2 linked regions of the Homo sapiens genome follow. The protein of the gene in region 1 interacts with the protein of each later gene in a pairwise test. Each region holds a gene or a part of one and is shown in the gene's direction. Other genes may lie near its edges. The genes, in order: FGF1 and TRPV2.

Region 1 (11,036 bases):
GGGGGATGTGTCCAAATAAGGCTTGCTCGAGGAGGAAATATCCGAAATATCCAGCTAAATTTTTGAAGGGTGAGTGTGACTTAGTCAGACCATGGTGAAAGGGTGGAGGAAAGGAGGGAAGGAGGGAGGAAGGGAGGGAGGGAGAAAGAGAAAGAGAAAAAGAGAGAGAGAAAAAATACTGTTGGCAGCAGCACAATGTTTGGGCTAAGACCTGGGTGAGTATGAGGGTGTAGGGGGACTATAAAAAGAGGCCAATAAGAGAAAAAGTCACAGGGTTAAGAAGGGGTCAAATGATGAGAGCCTCACAGGTCATGGCAGGAGTCTGGGTTTTATCTGGAAAGACAACGGGAAATCAATGACCCAGTCAAAGATCTACAGCAGGGGAGTGATGAGTTAGAATGGTCACTAGCAGCAGAATTGACAGTGGATTGAAAGAAGGCAGTGCTGGAAAGGTGGGACCTGCTGCAGCAGCCCAGGTGAGACAGGTGCTGGGTCTGTGCTAAGGCAACAGAAGTGAGGCTGGAGAAAAGAGGATGGCTTTAGGAGACACTAAAAAGGTAAAACTGAAAGGGCATTTTCACCAACTGAACAGGTGGGAGTGATTTCTATTCTGCCCAAAGAATAGTCTGAATGAAACAAATTTTTCTATTTGGGTTGTCTTGCCTTATGACCTGGTACATGGTCAATTTTCGTAAATGCTCCATGTATCTTTGATAAGAATGATGTTCACTTCATTGTTGGGTACAAGGTTCTTTTATACACTCATCAATTAAGTTTACTAGTTGTGTATTTCAATCTTCTACATATTAATATTTGGTGTCTGTTTGCTCTATCATTTATGACAGAAATGTATTATAAAATCTCCCACCATAATTGCGGAGTTGTCACTTTCTCTTTACATATTTGTCAATTTTTGTTTTATGTATTTTGAGGCTATGTCATTAGATATATACATGTTTGGAATTTGTATATCTTTCTGTTGAATTAATCCACTTATTATGTGGCAATCCCTTTTATCTTTAGTCATTCTTTTTGCCTTAGACCTACTTTATCTGATATTAATATAGCCACACGAGTTTTCAATTTTTTTTTTTGAGACGGAGTCTTGCTCTGTCACCCAGGCTGGAGTGCAGTGGCGCGATCTCAGCTCACTGCAAGCTCCGCCTCCTGGGTTCACACCATTTTCCTCCCTCAGCCTCCCCAGCAGCTGGGACTACAGGCGCCCACCACCATGCCCAGCTAATTTTTTTGTATTTTTAGTAGAGACAGGGTTTCACTGTGTTAGCCAGGATGGTCTCGATCTCCTTACCTCGTGATCCGCCCACCTCGGCCTCCCAAAGTGGTGGGATTACAGGCGTGAGCCACCGCGCCCAGCCGAGTTTTCAATTTTTTTGTTAACATTTGTCTGGTATCTATTTTTCATTCTTTTGCTTTTAACCTCTCTATGTCATTATGTTTTAAATGTGTCTCTTGTAATCAGAGTGCAGATGGAGTTAAAAAAAAAACAGTAGCTAGTAAATTTAGCACATTTACATTTATTGTGATTATACATATATTTGGATTTATTTTGGCCACCTAATTCTGAGCAATTTTTTTACTTTATTTTCTTTTTTTCTTTTTCTAGATTATTTTGGAATAGCACAGGGTTTTGTTTTTTTTTCGTTTTTTGGTTTTTCTTGAGACGGAGTTTCGCTGTTGTTGCTCAGGCTGGAGTGCAATGCCACAATCTCAGCTCATCACAACCTCCGCCTCCCGGGTTCAAGCGATTCTCCTGCCTCAGCCTCCTGAGTAGCTGGGATTACAGGCATGCGCCACCATGCCCGGCTAATTTTGTATTTTTAGTAGAGACGGGGTTTCTCCATGTTCGTCAGGCTGGTCACGAAGATAAGCACAGTTTTATTTATTCCACCTTATCCCCCTTACGCCTACCAGTTGCCGCTTGGACTAAATACATTCTATTTCTTTTCTTTTAGTAGTTACCTTTAACATTTAACATGTATATTTGACTTAACAAAATTTAGTTAATATCTCTAAGGAAGAATTAAGATTTTGGGTGATGCCATTCATAGCCACAGGCAGCAAGGACTTAGAGCATATTTGGAACCAAAGCCAAGGCCTGTTTTGTATATGCTGGGTTTGAGGATACATCCAATTATCACCTTAGCAGGTGTCTGTCTACACATCTACCTTCAGTGGCTTTATATACTCTGCAAAATATCCTCCTTCATGGGTATTCCACATTGCTTACACAGTGACAGGGATTAAAAACAAAACTAAAGGCTGGGCGTGGTGGCTCACGCCTGTAATCCCAGCACTTTGGGAGGCTGAGGCGGGTGGATCACGAGGTCAGGAGATCGAGACCATCTTGGCTAACACGGTGAAACCCCGTCTCTACTAAAAATACAAAAAATTAGCCGGGCGCGGTGGCAGGCGCCTGTAGTCCCAGCTACTCAGGAGGCTGAGGCAGGAGAATGGCGTGAACCTGGGAGGCGGAGCTTGCAGTGAGCCGAGATTGTGCCACTGCAATCCGGCCTGGGCTAAAGAGCGGGACTCCGTCTCAAAAAAAAAAAAAAAAAAAAAAACAAAACAACTAAAAAATAAATGTCAGTGTTTGCCTTCCTTTGATTCTTAACACATCACAGTCTTTCCTTCCAGCTTAGTTTCCAGGGCCAAGCTGGGCACAAATGTCTCCTAGATATAATGGGCCTCGCAAATAACTGTAATAACTATATAGTAACTGTCACTATATTAACTGTTGATAAGCTGAGAACTGAGTCTGAAATGCAGACCAGGATTTTTTCTTACATAACCATGGCTTACCTTTGTGCCTTTCATCTTCTCTGCTATGTTTGTGGCTTACAGCACAGGGGGAGGAGCTTAGCTAATTTCTGCCAAATATGGGAATGAAAAACTTCTATTTTCAAACCAATTAAAAAATTATTTTAAATTAAGCATTTAATCACAGCTGACTTAGATCACACCAGGCTCCAACGAGTTCAACATAACCAGTTACTATTATCTCCTATAGGTCAGGTCCAATTTTTCAAGCGCTGTATCAATATTGTACCCATTTAATCCTTTAGACAACTGTGTGAGAGGCAGGATGAGAATTATTAGAGGAAACATCTCAGAAGGAGTGAATGACTCGCCCGGGTTCCCAGAGCCAAAGTGGTTGCTTACTATCCACATCCTGTTCATGTGTCAGAGTTCAGGTTCCCTTCCAGAGGCCACAGCTGACAAAGTATGTCAGCCTTAACACAGATGTTCCAATAGGCTTGGTGTTCCTCTAACCTGGGTGTCACTGATAAATCAAAAAAATCATCTGGATTTCCTAAAATCTCACCCGTACCCCAAATCTCAAAGGGCTAGGCTTCGTGCACAATGGTGACACGGAGTTCGCTGGGCTTGATCTTCTCCATTTCCCAGCACAACACAGACAATCCCCTCCTCTGACAGCCACTAAAAAGAAAATAGTAACAAGAAGCAGAGCTTATAAATTTCCTTACACTTAATGCCTGATTTCACTTAGTTAATGGATTCATTTATTAAAGCAATTTGTGTAAATCTCCAAGGACCTGCTAACGTTGCTGCCTTATGGTTTTATCACGCCATATACTTCCTTTATTTCTACCCTTTAACAAATAGTGGATTGGCAAGGAACTTTGGACCAACTACCGCTCAAACTATAGGTAAATTACAAATAAAGTTTAAAATAAGGGCTTTTCATGCCCCTGGGGTTTCCTTTAGCAACAAAAAGGGATTTCATTTTTTATATGTTTCAGCTGAGTCATCAATCTCAGTTACCATGGTCTGTCAGTTTCATGTTGACTCCAGGCTTATTTTCAGAAGCCTACATGTCTCCTTCAGGTTTTCAGTTGTGGATCTGAAGGGTTTGGGGAGCCATCTGACATCAGTATAGGCACCCTCATGATGCTCCCTCTCACTGAGGGGATCAGGCAGAGAGCAGAGTTGTGGCCTTGTATGACTGCAGGTACACTGTGGTCAGGAGGGAGGGGCCCCTGAGGACCTGCTGGGCTCTGGCTGAGGTTATTTAGCCAGTGAAAACTCCACAGTGATGAAGTCTGGGCTGCATGGCTCATACACACATGGTCTAGAATCTAGAAGAAAAGCCATTCTTTTTTTTTTTGAGACAGAGTCTCGCTCTGTCGCCCAGGCTGGGGTGCAACGGCGCAATCTTGGCTCACTGCAACTGTCGTCTCCCAGGTTCATGCCATTCTCCTGCCTCAGCCTCCCGAGTAGCTGGGACTACAGGCATGCACCACCAGACCTGGCTAATTTTTGTATTTTTAGTAGAGATGGGTTTTTGCCATGTTGGCCAGACTGGTCTTGAACGCTTGACCTCAGGTGATCCACCCACCTCGGCCTCCCAAAGTGCTAGGATTGCAGGCATGAGCCACCACACCTGGCCTGAAAGGCCATTCTTAAAATGAAATTGCCCCACAATCAGAGGCAAATGGGACCTACACTGGAGGAAGTCCAGAGACAAGGAGAAACAAAATTCGGCCCACCTAAGATTGACAATACAAATGACTATTTGTGCAGTTAAGTGGCAACCACTGGTATATAATTATTGTCTCCTGTACCAAATGAAGTACATAACTTAGGAAGTGCTTGGAAAAAATAAATGAAAGAAAAAAATCATTACCTCTTAGTTGTATTTTAAGGAAGGGGAATCTGGTGATGGTTGAGTGCTAATAGAGAGGTGAGGGATAAAGATATCCACACTGGGAAGAGCTAAATTGCTTTACATTAGAAGTGGATCCAGAAGGGAGTGGAGTGAGGAGTTAGAGTGAGAGGCTGGGTGGAGAGAGGAGTGAGTGGAGAGACAGGAAGAGACAGAGGGACAGAGAGTAAGAGAGCCAGAGGTGGACACAGAAGGACTTAGAGGCTTATGGATAAGAAAGTAAGGTTTGGAAGAGACAGTGAGGATGGAGAGAGATTGTACTATGCAAGGTAAACTCTGCAATCCTCTCTGTGAAATTGACATAAATAAAATTACATATATGTGGTATTATATTTATTTTCTGTCTGTTGCTGTATTATGTGAAAAGAATTAATCGAAGTTTCACCATATGGGATGGAGGGGACATTTGGGATGATCTGACTTTAAATATAGTTTATATGGTATTTGCGAAATTCTCTTTGGGATTCTTGGAGGCACCTCCAACACTAGTTGAAACCAGGGACAATGGCTGGCCCATGTGGTGGCAGAGTGGGAAAAATGTACCAGAAACATTAAAATGCCAGGAGCAGAGAAAACAGATGGAGGCTTCCAACATGAGCCCTCATTTTAAAGTCATAAGGACAAATTATTGTAATTGGTGTCTTGATTTATGATGGAACCATCTCCTATGAGAGCAGCTCCGCACAGCTGCTACAGGCACTGATGGATGGTTAGTGCAGGGAAGGCAGGGTAGCTGCTGGTCTTCCATGATGCTCACGAAGCTGCTGGGGTGGGCTTCTCCTGGAGAAGGTGGAGATGCATGGAGTCCTGTTTCACAGATGGCATGGGGGCAAAAGGAGAGGCTGTTGGTGGAGACTAGCCAACCTTTGGGTCACAAATAAATATATGAATGACAAGTTAATGGTGGCAGATGTACATGTCAGGCAATGGGTAAAAACCCCACTCCTCATAAAAAGACTAGTGTGGATAAAGTCACTAAACCTTTTCATGGTGATCAAGGGCAAATTGGGGCTTTCTGTTCCCAGACTCCTTTTGCGATTCAGCTCCATCGCTTACTAGCTGTTGCCCTTGGGCAGGTCACTGAACATCTGTAAGCTTTGGTTTTATTAAAAATGATGATAATATTAGTGTCCACTTCAAGGGATTATGGTGAGATTACTTGAGATAACCTGTAGCCCAAAATACGTTAATGATGAGGGTGATGATTTTTATTCTAAGACCACTTGATAATCAATATGTATTGATGATCACATTCACTACTCACACTTACAAAGTACAGCTCCCAGGCCGGGCGCGGTGGCTTACGCCTGTAATCCCAGCACTTTGGGAGGCCGAGGCAGGCGGATCACGAGGTCATGAGTTCAAGACCAGCCTGGCCAACATGGTGAAACCCCATCTCTACTAAAAATATAAAAATTAGCCTGGTGTGGTGGCGCATTCCTGTAATCTCAGCTACTTGGGAGGCTAAGGCAGGAGAATTGCTTGAACTGGGACCCGGGAGGCCAAGGTTGCAGTGAGCTGAGATCGTGCTACTGCACTCCATCCTGGGCTACAGAGACTCCGTCTCAGGAGAAAAAAAAAAAAGTGCAGTTCACACGTTAGTTTCCTGGTCTCTTTTTGGCCTCTTTCTTTTCAGTTTTTAGAGTCACCAGCACTTCCTTCTCCTAAATGGTGGGGCAAGTATATGTTTTAACCAATTCTAATGCTCATTGGTTTTGTTTTTTAATCCTTTGAGGTGTAAGTGATGCATTTTCACATTAATAATATAAGTTTGTATGTAGTGGCTACATATAATGTTAAAGGTATATTATATATAATATGGTGGTTTCTGTGTTCTATCTCACATTAGAAAATAGCTAGGATGAAAACAGCCTGCGTGCAAGGGACAGACCCACCTTCTCTGTGCCACATGAAGCTATGTGGAAAGCTGCAGAATGGGCAGGAACCAGGCATAGCCTTCATAATGATCTGTCTCATAACATTTCCTTTGATATGGTATTTGCCCTTTAAAAACCCCACTTACTCCCACTCTGTGCCTTTTTCCCTGGTTCCAGTTCTGTTTCCCCCAGCAAATCCAGAAGCTTCCCTTAACATACTAACCCTTTACTTTCCCTGTTGTGTCCCTGAAAGGCCTCCTGTGCCTTTGGCTGCAGGTCCCGAACGTCCAGGCCATCTGTGCTATCTGCTTCGCGGTACCTCACCAACGCAACGTGAGGGTGGAGGGCAGAACCTTGGTCCTGGCCTCTCAGCTTTTGTGGGTTTCAGCCAGACCCTAGGTGTTATTTTAGTGCAACTTTGGTGTTTAATTTGAGGATGTGTGTGGACCAGAAGGAGGGACCAAAACATGATTCTTTTCCCCATGGTCAGATGATTAAATTTGAAGTTCTAAAAAATGCAGTTTGGTCCAAAGCTGTGTCCAATTGGGAAGAGAGAAAAATGCCCTGGAAACCCCTCCCAGGCCTGGGACCATCCTTCCTTAACCACCAGCCACCTCACAGGCCCGCGGACTGCGGGCATCACCTGGGCAGGCTGTGCTTACTCACTACCCGGGAACCCTGTGCCCTGGAGCTGTCCTTCCTCTCTTCAAAGTGCATTTTGTGCCTTTGCTGGAAGAACCGACTACAGGTTTGTTCAATTTCTTACAGTCTTGAAAGCGCCACAAGCAGCAGCTGCTGAGCCATGGCTGAAGGGGAAATCACCACCTTCACAGCCCTGACCGAGAAGTTTAATCTGCCTCCAGGGAATTACAAGAAGCCCAAACTCCTCTACTGTAGCAACGGGGGCCACTTCCTGAGGATCCTTCCGGATGGCACAGTGGATGGGACAAGGGACAGGAGCGACCAGCACAGTAAGCCCATCTCTATGGCACCCCCCTTCCCTTTCTGACATCTTCTGTAGTCAAGGTGGGAGGAAGGTGCACATTTAAGTACAGGTACTTGCTTCTCCAAGGTTCTATTCAGGCATGACACATTCAGAGGTGGAGTCACATAAATGCGTAAAATGTCTGGGTTTAGAAAATAGGGACTTGTGGGGGCCACCACTTACCCAAACGTGTCCTATTTCAAGTTTTTTAAAGCACTCTCTGCTGACCCAACAGAACGGGCTGCCGGTGCTCAATTGCTGTATGTTTTCCCAGGTTTCTGTAACTAGTGAAAGATCTGGCCCCGAAGGCTAGTCAGGGGCCTGCACGCTTCATGATGGGATGAACCAGACAGGCATGGTGGTAAATCCTGCACAGAGATGTGGGCTCCGTTTCAAGTCAACTGACTCTCCTGGTTATGTTTCCACTGGGCTTGATTTGTGAAATCCCAGTTCATAATCGTAGTCTTACACATCATAAATTATGCAGCTTTCCCTCTGCGTATCACGCAGATGTGGCTGTGGTAACCAGCAGTGGTAAAGTCATTCTCCAGACCTTATAGAAACTGGAGAGTAGGAGCGACTAGCGCCAAATGCTGAATATCTCTTCCAGGACTTCCTGGCAGCCCGGTTCTCAGAGGTGTTGACAAATGAAGGTATGACTCTAGAGAAAAGAATCTTCTTGACTATCTAAGTATAAAAAAATCTCTTCCTTCTGCTTTGGTACTTCTGGCATTGGTGTGTATGTTTGATATTAGGTGTCCAGGTCCTATCGTGATGTTATCTGAGATTCCCTGAGTCCCACTGCAGCATCAGAGGTTACAAAGAAGCCTAAAGTCAGATCCAGTCCCTGCTTAGAGGGTCAGCAATCTCAAGAGTCAAACTTGCCACAAATCAAGAGAAGGAAAATCAGGAGACATAGAAGAAGACAGGCAGGAAGGAAGTTTCTGTAGGACTGGCTTCAAAATGCAATGCAAAACACTCACTTTGACATGATGGTTTATACATCAGGTGGTCTTAATTATTCATGGACCATGCACCAGAGGTTGCAGGCTCTAAGAACAAATGACCACTTCGCTGGTGCTCACGCTGTACCCTCAGATGCACAGGTAATGGGGATGGATGCTGGCGTTTACACGAGGTGACGTTGTTCCTTCCTCCCCACCCACTGCACAGACCCTGGAGATGAGGAGCAGGAAGGCTGAGGCTGGGGCTTGCAGCTGCAGAATTAGCTCTTTTGGGCTTTGTTTTGATGGCTTATCTTCAAATGGGCTTGCTGAATGTCTTATACTCAGTGAAAAACAGGTGTCAGAATGAGGCAAAAAAAAAAGACTCTAGTTTGTTAAATAGCATACATAAGCAATATTCACTGCAAATTAGCAAACTTAGATTGTAGTCCATTGTGTCAGGCATGATACACAACTCACGTGATCTGCCCCACACAACACGAACAAGCTTTAATTCCTCTGGGTTTTAAGTGTTCCTAATACGTCTTAACCAATTTTCTGAAAAAGTAGGGAATGCTCTCCGGTCCTCAGAACCCAAGAGGAAAGACAAACTTCATGATATGTTCCTTGGGGTTAAGCTAGCTCTTCTGGAAACCTTGACTTCTGGAGTAAAAAAAGGCTCCAATACTGGAATTTCTGTAGCAATGGAAAATGGCTTAACTGTTGCCATTCCATCATTAGCACAACAGACTGCACTCTGGGTGTGTAACACTGGCACAACTTCTGGAGTCCACAGTGGATTTGGCCGCCTGACTTAAGATGTCAGGAGCCCCTAGAAAGCAGCACAACGTAGCCCTGGGAGTGCAGGTGAGGATTTCTGCATTCAAGGAATGCCAGATTATTTTCCAAGTGAACTTGGGCAACTGCACCTTTCACCCTCACTTTTCTCATTTGTACAAAAAGAATACTAATATTCCTTGCCTCACAGGTTTCTTGGGAGGGTTAAATGAGATAATATAGTGAGAGTTCTTGGCACAGTGGCTGGCACAGAGGAACAGCACAGCACGTGTTGGTTCATATTGCAGTTATCATCATCAAGCTTTCCATATAATCAGCCTAGCATATGGTAACACAGGGTCGTATTGAAGGACCTTCCAGACTCCTCTTTTTAACAGTACTGCCACCCAGGAAAGTCAAGGGGCTAGATGCAGGCTTAGATTCAGCATCTCTCTGCCAACACTCGGAGTTGTTGTGTGGGCCTATTATTTGCTTACTCTGGAACTAAGAACAAGGACCAAGAGGACAGAGATCAGAGTAAGTGGGGTGGGTGGCCAGAAGCCCATCCGTGTACCTGTCAGTACTGGAACTGGATATTCCACTGAAGAGTCAGCAGGCTCGAGTTCAAGCCTACTCTGCCCCTTTCTACCTGGAGCAGCCCTGGACAATTAACGTTCTTGCCATTATGCATTCTTTCTGTTTGCAAACTCTGCGAAAGAAGCTTCAAGCCCCCCAGCCCTGGGACGCTTCCAGTCCTTTCCTGACTAGAAATTGAAGTGTCTCTAGTGTTCCCAGATAATTTTCAGGAAAATCATTTAGTCTCGCTGAGACTCAGTTTCCTCACCTGTGGAATGGGAATGGCAGCATTGCCCAGTGTGCCTCACAAGGGCGAAACTTCTATTTACTAGGGTTCTGCAGGTGAGAGGAGTCCTGGGCACGGATGTACTCCCTGAATGTGGTTCTGTTGCCCTCTTCTGCCCAGTGGTGGTACTGCCAGAGCCCTTCTGAGTTTCAAGGGTTATTCAGAAACAGAATTGCCTCGGCCAGGCATGAGACGGATGCTCCCTGACTAAATGTGATCCACACGGCCTGGCAAGGAGATATTTTTGATTCCTTGATCACTAGTTTGAGCATAATTAGAGACTGAAGTGACAGAGTCACACGTTAAGACTTCCTTCAGAAAGAGCGTTTCTAAAAGCCAATCGAAAAATTTAAACAAATCACACAAGATAGAACCGTATGCCTTTGAGCTCTACAAGGCAGAAATAACTCCTTTCACGGCTTCTCTTTGTCCCCAAGTCATTGATCATTCCTGGGCAAATGTATCTTCTTCCTACCTCTAGGAGAATGAGTTTCCAAGTACCTAACCTTCCTTATAGTGGTATAACCCTAGGGCAGATGCTTGTGTGTGGGCTGTTCTAATAGAGACCTGAGTAAAATGTCTCTACTGGTGGACTTCTAGCCTGCAGAGAAGGTGGTTTTGGTTTGTCCCATTTCCATTCCTTAGATCGCTGCTGCAGGCAATTACCAATATGGACTGTGAACATTGGTTACGCTGCCATGCTAGGAAGGCCAGGCAGAATCAGCCAGGGAGTGCTGCATAGATTCCAGGGCTGATGGGCACAGTTTGTGAGAAGGTTCATGTTGTCCCCTAAGCTTCAGCTCAGGGGGACACATAAGTGGTGTCACCATGAGAGGGGGAGGTCCTGGAAGAAGATCAGGTCCAGGGGAAGATGGCCAGTTCCATT
Region 2 (11,036 bases), on another chromosome or scaffold:
AGATGTTTCATCCTCGTCTGGCCAGAAGACGGGCATGCACCCAGACCCAGACCCAGGGAAAGAAATAGGGGCTGCTAGCACTGGCATGTGACTTGGCCAGGCAGAGCCTGAATAAAGAGGCAGCATGCCTGGGCTCTGGCAAAGAAGACAGCAAAAGGCAGCAGGTTGGCTGGCCCCTGTTCTGCTCCCTTCAGTGGTAAAGAAGCCTGACCTGTTTCAAGGAGGGCTGGCCTTTTGTCCAAGGAGCATGAGGAGTAGGCAGATGGAAAGCAGGAGGCCTGGGGCCCAAGCTGCTCTCTTGGCCTGCAGGTGAGCTACCCCTCTCTTTGGCCGCTTGCACCAAGCAGTGGGATGTGGTAAGCTACCTCCTGGAGAACCCACACCAGCCCGCCAGCCTGCAGGCCACTGACTCCCAGGGCAACACAGTCCTGCATGCCCTAGTGATGATCTCGGACAACTCAGCTGAGAACATTGCACTGGTGACCAGCATGTATGATGGGCTCCTCCAAGCTGGGGCCCGCCTCTGCCCTACCGTGCAGCTTGAGGACATCCGCAACCTGCAGGATCTCACGCCTCTGAAGCTGGCCGCCAAGGAGGGCAAGATCGAGGTGAGCGGCTGTCCCCTTCCCACTTCCCCTCTCCAGGAAGCAGTAGGTCTCATCCCAAAATTTCTGCAGAAAGAACCCAGGGGGTGGTGAAGAGCAGTGGCTTCTCTGCTTTTCAATGGAACACTCCTGTTAGTAAGAAAATTTTCAGTATGTACCTCTGATATATTTCTGTTTATTTATAAATTGCATATGAACTACTGAATATATTACATTATAAAACATTGAGATTTTTTTTTTTTGAGACGGTGTTTCGCTCTTGTTGCCCAGGCTGGAGTGCAATGGTGCGACCTCGGCTCACCGCAACCTCTGCTTCCCAGGTTCAAGCGATTCTCCTGCCTCAGCCTCCCAAGTAGCTGGGATTACAGGCATGTGCCACCACACCCAGCTAATTTTGTTTTTTTTTTTTTTGAGACGGACCCTCGCTCTGTCACCCAGGCTGGAGTGCAGTGACATGATCTCGGCTCACTGCAACCTCTGCCTCCCAGGTTCAAGCAATTCTCCTGCCTCAGCCCCCTGAGTAGCTGGGATTACAGGCACCCACCACCATGCCTGGCTAATTTTTTTTTTGTATTTTCAGTAAAGAGGGGTTTCACCATGTTGGTCAGGCTGGTCTTGAACTCCTGACCTCGTGATCCACCCGCTTCGGCCTCCCAAAGTGCTGGGATTACAGGCACGCGCCACTGCACCCAGCTAATTTTTTGTATTTTTAGTAGAGATGGGGTTTCACCATGTTGGCCAGGCTGGTCTTGAACTCCTGACCTCAGGTGATCTGCCCACCTCGGCCTCCCAAAGTGCTGGGATTACAGGTGTGAGCCATGGCACCCGGCCAAACATTGGGAATTTTTAAAAGTCGTTTGTGTTTCTTTATTAAGAGATAGCCTTTTTATATCTTTTGCCTATTTTGCTATTCTGTTTCTGCATATTTATTGATAACTTTATAATGAATTTAGTATTTTGTCTACCATAGCACTTGTAAAATTTCTCCTAGTTCATCATTTGTCTTTTGAATTTTATGTTTTTTTTGCTATACAGGATTTAAAAATTTTTATAATCTGCAAGTGTGACTATCTTTTCCTTTAAGGTTCCATGGTTTTGCTATTGTCTAATTCCTGCTACAAGATTTTATATATATAATACATATTATATGTACATAATATATGTTATAACTATTATACATTATATTATACATTATAATTATATATAGTATATATATAATCTTCATACCCATATTTTCTTCCAAACTTTTGCAGCTGCATTTTTTTTTTTTTTTTTTTGAGATGGAGTTTCGCTCTTGTTGCCCAGGCTGGAGTACAATGGCGCGATCTCGGCTAACTGCAACCTCCGCCTCCGGAGTTCAAGCGATTCTCTTGCCTCAGCCTCCCGAGTAGCTGGGATTACAGGCATGTGCCACCACGCCCGGCTAATTTTGTATTTTTAGTAGAGACGGGGTTTCTCCATGTTGGTCAGGCTGGTCTCAAACTCCCGACCTCTGGTGATCCACCTGCCTCAGCCTCCCAAAGTGCTGAGATTACAGGCATGAGCCGAAACGCCCAGCCTGCAGCTGCATTTTTAATGCCTAGAGCTTTGACTAGCTGGAAGTTATTCTGGTAGGAAGAGTAAACATGAGGCAGCCCCCACTTTGTTCCAGATAGCTTACCAATGGCCTGTTCCAAATAGCTTTTGCCAATAGCTCACCAGGGCTGGCCTCATGGGCTTACAGTGGAGATTTTTGAAAGATTAAGGAAACGATAAACATAAATAGAAGTTTTAACCCTTTTTCGCTGCCCTCCCAAGTTTTTTGGAGTGCTCCCTGGGGTGTGTGAACCTCACTTTCTTGTCTAGAGGCACTGCTGTGTGGCCTATGAAAGCAGTGTCCTGATCTGTTCCTCCTTTCCCATTCCTCACGCGTGAAACCAGACTGCTTCCTAACCTGTTTGGATTAGGGACCACTTTCTAGTCTGTTGAAAATTCTAGATTCTGACCGCGAAAGTGCACACACAGATACAGCTAGTAGACTCTGATCTCAGGGGCCTCAAGGACCCCAGGGCTAGGGATCAATCTGCCATTTGAGGAGTTCAAGGAAGGCCACAGGGCAGGGGAGGGGAAGGAAGAGCCAGGCTGGCTGGCAGGCTGGGGCAGATGTGGCTGGGTGCGTGTGTGTGTTTAAGAGTTTAGACAAACAAGGACCTGCGTGTATGGGGGTACGTGCACGTGTCAGCTGCAGCTCTGCAGACCGTGGGCAGCTGCTGAGTCCTGGGTGTTTCCCAGCCTTGGCCCAGGATCAGTGCCAGGAAGGGACCATGAATGCAAGCTCATATGGCCACCCTGCAGATTTTCAGGCACATCCTGCAGCGGGAGTTTTCAGGACTGAGCCACCTTTCCCGAAAGTTCACCGAGTGGTGCTATGGGCCTGTCCGGGTGTCGCTGTATGACCTGGCTTCTGTGGACAGCTGTGAGGAGAACTCAGTGCTGGAGATCATTGCCTTTCATTGCAAGAGCCCGGTGAGCCCACAGGAGCATGGGTGCACGCAGAGGACCCAGCAGAGTTTCCAGCAAGGTCCACAAATTGGGGCTGCCTGCTGGACCATATCTGCCCCATTCCTGTGCCAGTGGGGGTGTGGCTGCATGTCCCAGCAGGCACGACCCTGACCATGGCCACCGGGCCCATACTCAATCCATACTCTAGTCCCATCCAAGACGGGGATCATGCCAAGGGCCTCGTGGCAACCATCCGGGTCCTCTCTGTTAACCAGCATCTCATTTGGAGGGCAAGCCCCTTAGTCACACTGTAGCTGGGAGGGTTGGCGTGAGGTCCTTTGGGGCTCCTGGGGTGTGGAAGCCTGCTCCCTGTCCTCTCTCCTCATTTCCTGGGCCCTTGCTTTGATCTTGACATGGAGTGGGCAGCCTATTTGCACTTGTTGAGTGTACCCATGGCTCTCCCCTCCCCACCCCAGCACCGACACCGAATGGTCGTTTTGGAGCCCCTGAACAAACTGCTGCAGGCGAAATGGGATCTGCTCATCCCCAAGTTCTTCTTAAACTTCCTGTGTAATCTGATCTACATGTTCATCTTCACCGCTGTTGCCTACCATCAGCCTACCCTGAAGAAGGCAAGGGCGTGAGGTTTGGGGGGGCACATCTTGGGGGAGGCCTGCTTGAAACAACCCTGGGGGAAGATGGGGCAGTAATAGTGCTGAGGCATGGGCTGCTGGAGTGACATTCCCAAGCTTATGGGAGCCAGCACTGCAGTACTAACGGTGATACAGTGAAGATTTGCTGAGTGCTCACTGTATGTGAAAAAGGATTCTAGGTGATGGACATGTGTTGACTAATTAATGTGCCCCAAAACCCTTGAGATGGTGAATTATAATCACCCCCAGTTTATAGTAGAGGGAAGGGAGGCACAGAGAGGTTAAGTAACTTGCCCAGGGTCACACAGAATGGAAGTGGTGTGGAGAGGGAATCTGAATCCAGGGAGTCTGGCTTCAGACCCTACACTGAAATGCTACACAATGTGCCTCTCAGGATCCAGGGGTCCTTCCCTGGAGCCCATGTTCCCATGCCGTTCTGAGGAGCCTCTCCACAGCTCAGGCTCAGAGTAGGCCCTCAGCTTCAGCTCTGAAGGGTGAGCTGTTCGAGAGAGGACCCAAGGCCCTAGGTCTCATCTGAGTGTGTCTTCAGCAGGCCGCCCCTCACCTGAAAGCGGAGGTTGGAAACTCCATGCTGCTGACGGGCCACATCCTTATCCTGCTAGGGGGGATCTACCTCCTCGTGGGCCAGGTGAGTGCCCCTCCCCTTCTCCTACCAAGAAGCAAACCTAGAATTCTGCTTCAGGGGGCTTAGAGAAAGTTAGCTGCATCCCCTCACTGACAATACCCAGTCCCACCCAGAGCAACCAGCCTCACTGAAGCTGAGGGCCAGAGGTTCTGGCCTTGCCTTCTGAGTCCCCAGGAACCCCTCTGCTGTGCTTTTGGGGTTCCTTGGGGTAGCAGATAGCTTCTCTGATTCCTTGGCAGTACAGACTCTGCTCCCCCAGGAATGGAGCTGGAAGCGCCTGCCCCTAGCCAGGCCCCTCGGCTGGGAAGCTCCCCTCTTGGGGAGCACAGAGACCAGAGGTAGGTGGGGTTCAGGCTATTTCCCCCAGTAGGGCCTCTTCAGTGGGAAATGCTGTAAGCCTGCAGGACACAGGCTGGACACCAAGACATTGGGACCTCCGCAGAGTGGGCAGAACTTGGGCACCAAACGCAGGTTGGCTGGGGTATGGGTGCTCCCTGTGAGGCCAGGGAGAAGGGAAGGGAAAGGTGCTCTTCCCCTTCCTGCATGCAGTGCACAGGCTCTTCACCTGCACCCCCCGGCCTTGCCTAGGTGGCTGCTCTTTCTGGAAAGAAAGTCCCAAGCTATCTCAGCTATCAGAAGTATTCATGAGTCCCCCAAAACCAAAGCTGCTGACTTAGCTCTAGCCTGGGTGGCAGGCTCCCACTCAGCCAGGCCAGCAGGGGGCATGCGGGAGAGCAGGTTTCACAGCCCTCTGTCCTCCCTTCCTCCGCAGCTGTGGTACTTCTGGCGGCGCCACGTGTTCATCTGGATCTCGTTCATAGACAGCTACTTTGAAATCCTCTTGTACGTGGGTTCTCACTCCTCCTTCTCTCAACTGTCTCTGAGGTCTGGAAGGGGCAGTTGTGGCAGAAGGCACCAGGTTGGCTTTAGAGGCGAGGACACGGGGCCCAGGAAGTCGGGATCTGTGTACAGGCCAGTCCCAGGAGTCTGGGCTGCCGTCCAGCCTGGGGCCCCTTGTGCTCCCATCACTGTAGATGGTGATAGTGACATTTACTAGGCCTCGGCACATACCTGTTTCACTTAGTCCTTGAAAACACTCTATGAGTCAGGCATCATTATTATTATGCCCATTTTACAGTGGGAGGGAACTGAGGCCCACAGAGGTTAAATGTCTTGCCTAAGATGGAGGTCAGGACCTTGGTCAGCATAGGCCAGTGGGGGCTCAGGGAGCCAAGTGGCCCGCAAGCCCACCTGGATTCTGCTCCCACACAGCCTGTTCCAGGCCCTGCTCACAGTGGTGTCCCAGGTGCTGTGTTTCCTGGCCATCGAGTGGTACCTGCCCCTGCTTGTGTCTGCGCTGGTGCTGGGCTGGCTGAACCTGCTTTACTATACACGTGGCTTCCAGCACACAGGCATCTACAGTGTCATGATCCAGAAGGTGAGAGAAGGGGGTGGCCCACCGGGACTCTTTTGGCCTCATCAGGCAAGAAGAGCCTTCCTCCACAGCTATCCTAGGCAGAGGAGGGCATGTGTACATCTGCCTGTGCGCCAGCACTCAGATGCTTGCTGGATGGAAGCTTAAGTACAGGCCTGCACATACCTCTCTCAGGGCTCTGCATGCACACGCAAACAAACGTACATATGTGTGTTTGCAGGTGTCCACACGGGAGCATGTGCATCCTTCCACAAGCAAGGAGCAAAGAATATGTGCATAAGCTCATCTGCATGTCTGTGTCCTGCGATGTGTGGGCGCGGGCATGTAACTGCATTCATTTATGTATTCAGCGCATGTTTAGGGAGTGCCTACTGTGGGCCGGGCCCTGTTCTAGGTGTTGGGAATATAGCAGAGAACAGAACAAGTCCTTGCTCCCCTGAAGCTGATGTTCTGGTGGGAGGAAATGAAAACCTTAAGAAAACAACTGAGAACATTCCACACTGCTAAATTCTATGAAGGAAAAAAAAGCACAGGACAATGTGATGCAGAATGGCTGGGACCAAGTACCCTTTAGATGGGATGGTCTGGGAAGCCTCTCTAAAGAGGGGATGTTTAAGTTGAGACCTGAAAGAATGATTCAGCCACAGCAGGGTGAAGAGGAGATATTCTCAGCAGAGGGCACAGCAGTGGCTGCCACGAGCCAGAAGGAGCTTGGGGTGCTTGGGACAGGGTGAGGAGGCTAGGTGGCTGGGGAGATGGCAGGAGGGTGGAGGTGAGGAGGTTGGGAGGAAGGGAAGGGCCAGGGGCCCCTTCCACGGGGAGGGATTTGGAGGTCCCCAGAGGCTTTTTTTTTTTTAATTGTAGTAAAATACACCTAACATGGAACTTTTTTTTTTTTCTTTGAGATGGAGTCTCACTCTTGTTACCTAGGCTAGAGTGCAATGGCACCATCTCAGCTCACTGCAAACCCCTACTCCTGGGTTCAAGCGATTCTCCTGCCTCAGCCTCCCGTATGGCTGGGGTTGCAGGCACCCACCACCATGCCCGGCTAATTTTTGTATTTTTAGTAGAGACAGGTTTTCACCACGTTGGCCAGGCTGGTCTCAAACTCCTGACCTCAGGTGATCCGCCTGCCTTGGCCTCCCAAAGTGCTGGGATTACAGGCATGAGCTACTGCGCCTGGCCCATTTTAACCTTTTTTTTTTAAAGTATACAGCTAAGTGTCATTAAGTACATTCACACTGTTGTATAACCATCACCACCATCCAACTCCAGAACTTTCTTGTCATCCCAAACTGAAACTCAACACCCATTAAACAACTCCCCATTCCCTTCCCCCAGTCCCTGGAAGCCACCATTCTAATTTCTGTTTCTACGAATTTGATGACCATAGCTACATCGTAGAAGTGGAATCATACAGTATTTGTCCTTTAATGTCTGGCTTATTTTACTCAGTATAATGTCCTCAAGGATCAGCCATGTTGTAGCATGTGTCAGAAATGCCTTCCTTTTTTTTTTTTTTTTGAGATGGAGTCTTGCTCTGTTGCCCAGGCTGGAGTGCAGTGATGCAATCTTGGCTCACTGCAACCTCCGCCACCCAGGTTCAAGCGATTCTCCTGCCTCAGCCTCCCGAGTAGCTGGGACTACAGGCATGTGTCACCACATCCGGCAAATTTTTTTTATTTTTAGTAGAGACGGAGTTTTGCCACGTTGGCCAGGATGGTCTTGAACTCCTGACCTCAGGTGATCCACCCACCTTGGCTTCCCAAAGTGCTGGGATTGCAGGCTGAGCCATCACGCCCAGCCAATTCCTTCCTTTGTAAGGCTGAATAATATCCCATTGTGTAGATACACCACATTTTGTGCGTCCATTCATCTGTCGATCCAGTCACCTGTTGCTTCCACCTTTTGACCATTGTGAATAATGCTGCTACGAACAAGGGTGTAAAAGTATCTGTTAGAGTCCCTGCTTTCAATTCTTTTGGGCATATACATACCCAGAAGTGGAATTGCTGGGTCATACAGTAGTTCTATATTTTATTTTGTGACCCTGGAAGGTTTTTTTTTTTTGTTTTTTGTTTTTTGTTTTTTGAGATGGGACTCATTCAGTCACCCAGGCTGGAGTGCGGTGACACGATCATAGCTCATTGCCGCCTTGACATTCTGGGCTCAAGCAATCCTCCTGTCTCAGCCTCCTGAGTAGCTGGCACTGTAGGCTTGTGCCACCATGCCCAGCTACTGGAAAGTTTTAAGCAGGAAAACAATGTGATCTGAGACATATATATATATATATATATATATATATATACATATTTTTTTTTTTTTTTTTTTTGAGACGAAGTCTCACTCTGTAGCCCAGGCTGGAGTGCAGTGGTGTGATCTCGGCTCACCACAACCTCTGCCTCCTGGGTTCAAGTGATTCTCCTGCCTCAGCCTCCTGAGTAGCTGGGATTACAAGCACAGGCACACCACTGCACCTGGCTAATTTTTTGTATTTTTAGTAGAAACGCGGTTTCACCATGTTGGCCAGGCTGGTCTTGAACTCCCAACCTCAGGTAATCTGCCCGCCTCAGCCTCCCAAAGTGCTAGGATTATAGGCATGAGCCACCGCACCCAGCCAGATCTGAGATATATTTTTAAAAGACTCCTCTGCTCGGTGTGGCTCCACAGGCCCACATATGCATATGTATGTGTGCGTATGTGCAGTGTACACGGGAACCATGCTGCTGTGGGTGAGGCAGGGTTCTGGGGTCGTGACTGGTGGCCCAGCTACCCACCCTGGCCCCTGGGCACATGTGTTCCAGGTCATCCTGCGGGACCTGCTGCGCTTCCTTCTGATCTACTTAGTCTTCCTTTTCGGCTTCGCTGTAGGTAAAGGCTCCCTCCGGCCCCCTCCCCCTTCCCCACGTTCCTTGTCCACCCTGTACACTCCCAAGGCTGCCCACCGGTCTCCTGGGCTAAGGACCCCTCTCCCTTCATCCCATAGCCCTGGTGAGCCTGAGCCAGGAGGCTTGGCGCCCCGAAGCTCCTACAGGCCCCAATGCCACAGAGTCAGTGCAGCCCATGGAGGGACAGGAGGACGAGGGCAACGGGGCCCAGTACAGGGGTATCCTGGAAGCCTCCTTGGAGCTCTTCAAATTCACCATCGGCATGGGCGAGCTGGCCTTCCAGGAGCAGCTGCACTTCCGCGGCATGGTGCTGCTGCTGCTGCTGGCCTACGTGCTGCTCACCTACATCCTGCTGCTCAACATGCTCATCGCCCTCATGAGCGAGACCGTCAACAGTGTCGCCACTGACAGCTGGAGCATCTGGAAGCTGCAGGTGCCACCAGAGAGGCTCCCTGCCCCCACCCCACCCCACACTCAGGCGGTGGGGAGTGCTCCGGACCCTGCGGAGCTGGGCCTTCCCTAGCCAGGAGATGCCGGGTTGGGCAGCTCTACCTTGTCAGTCTTCCTCTTCCTTTTTTTTTTTTTTTTCTGGAGACAAGGTCTTGCTCTGTCACCCAGGCTGGAGTGCAGTGGCACGATCACAGCTCAATGCAGCCTCGGCCTCCTGAGCTCAAGTGATCCTCCTTCCTCAGCCTCCTGAGTAGCTGGGGTTACAGGCACCTGCCACCACACTTGGCTAATATTTTTATTTTTTGTAGAGAAGAAGGTCTCACTATGTTGCCCCGGCCTCAGGTGATCCTCCCACCTTTGCCTCCCAAAGTGCTGAGATTACTCCCACCTCCTTTAAGCTCATAGATGTACTTAGGACAGTGCCCAGCACCAAGCAGGTGCTCAATGTGCTACCAGCTACTCTTATCATCATTGCTGTCCAGTGTTTCTTTTTTTTTTTTTTTTGAGTCAAGAGTTTTGCTCTTGTTGCCCGGGCTGGAGTGCAATGGTGCAATCTTGGCTCACTGCCACCTTTGTCTCCTGGGTTCAAGCGATTCTCCTGCCTCAGCCTCCCAAGTACCTAGGATTACAGGCATGTGCCACCACACCCCACTAATTTTTTGTATTTAGTAGAGATAAGGTTTCACCATGTTGGTCAAGCTGGTCTTGAACTCCTGACCTCAGGTGATACACCTGCCTCGGCCTCCCAAAGTGCTGGCATTACAGGCATGAGCCACCATGCCCCACCCTGCTGCCAATTCATTGTTGATCTTGGGGAAGCCCCTTATCTCCTCTGAGCCTTGGTGCCCTCCTCTGCAAGGTTCTGTGCCCCACCTGACTCACTGGTGTGCCTCTGGGCAGGCACATGTGTGGGGTGAGCAAATGAAGTTCTGTTCCTGGTGGTGTGGCAATCTGGAGCCTGGAACGATGTAAGAGCAAGTAGCTGTCCAGTACTCATAAGGTACAGACTTCCCATCAGCTGTCTGAGGCACTTTGTCCTCAGTCTACAAATGGGGAAACTGAGATGCAGAGAGGCTGAGGGCCCAACCCCACACAGGTAACCGGATGTTGGAGCCAGATTCGAATCCGCGTGTTTAGTTGACTTCGCGTTATACTGTGAAGTGCTGCGCGGCACTTCCCTGCTCCGCTTGCCTTGTGTGCCTTTGCCCCCAGGCAGGGTCCCAGGACGTTCTGTCTGATGCATCCTTTGTCCCCAGAAAGCCATCTCTGTCCTGGAGATGGAGAATGGCTATTGGTGGTGCAGGAAGAAGCAGCGGGCAGGTGTGATGCTGACCGTTGGCACTAAGCCAGATGGCAGCCCCGATGAGCGCTGGTGCTTCAGGTGAGTGAGTGGTGGGAGGGTCTCCTGGGGGCCTTGCTGTCCAGCAATCCCTGGGGCCCCCCTGCAGTGCAGGGCACAGCTGCCAGGAGCCAGGTCTGGTGGGAAGGGCAGGCCCAAAGAGCACCAGGGACTGAGCCTGAGCAGGTGAGGTCAGGGGTCTGGATCTCACAAGCCATGGCTGCCACATGACTGGCCATCTGCCTGTCCCAGTGGCTTAAACTGAAGGTCCCCTCCTGGTGATCTCAGACTCCTCCTTGTAGCCTGAAATGTGTTACGGTAAGGAGGCCAAGAAGTCAGAGGGACCCTTGGGTTGCTAGCACTCTAGCATTGCCCTGGCTGCTCTGTGTCCCCCCACCCCCAATTCTGCCAGCCTGATCTCTGAGCTACAACCCCTTCCATGGAGAACATGCCCTTCTGTGTCCAGGAAAGGCTGGGACACTGGGAGAGGGAACCTAGTGACAAACACACAGCTAAAAACAGACACTGTCGGCCGGGTG

The links.
Region 2: the proteins of FGF1 (region 1) and TRPV2 interact in a protein complementation assay, tested with the Homo sapiens proteins (one study listed by IntAct).

The regions. Positions count from the first base shown.
Region 1 is NC_000005.10:142,610,476-142,621,511, reverse strand, and holds part of FGF1 (fibroblast growth factor 1 isoform 1 precursor), read left to right. Parts: intron 1-177; exon of another isoform or gene 178-215; intron 216-7,350; 5' UTR 7,351-7,384; coding exon 7,385-7,553; intron 7,554-11,036. UniProt on the Homo sapiens protein: Plays an important role in the regulation of cell survival, cell division, angiogenesis, cell differentiation and cell migration. Functions as a potent mitogen in vitro. Acts as a ligand for FGFR1 and integrins.
Region 2 is NC_000017.11:16,423,160-16,434,195, forward strand, and holds part of TRPV2 (transient receptor potential cation channel subfamily V member 2), read left to right. Parts: intron 1-309; coding exon 310-608; intron 609-2,939; coding exon 2,940-3,110; intron 3,111-3,562; coding exon 3,563-3,718; coding exon of another isoform or gene 3,719-3,730; exon of another isoform or gene 3,731-3,731; intron 3,732-4,289; coding exon 4,290-4,388; intron 4,389-5,157; coding exon 5,158-5,228; intron 5,229-5,657; coding exon 5,658-5,823; intron 5,824-6,040; coding exon of another isoform or gene 6,041-6,100; exon of another isoform or gene 6,101-7,160; intron 7,161-8,624; coding exon 8,625-8,691; intron 8,692-8,806; coding exon 8,807-9,141; intron 9,142-10,414; coding exon 10,415-10,539; intron 10,540-11,036. UniProt on the Homo sapiens protein: Calcium-permeable, non-selective cation channel with an outward rectification. Seems to be regulated, at least in part, by IGF1, PDGF and neuropeptide head activator. May transduce physical stimuli in mast cells.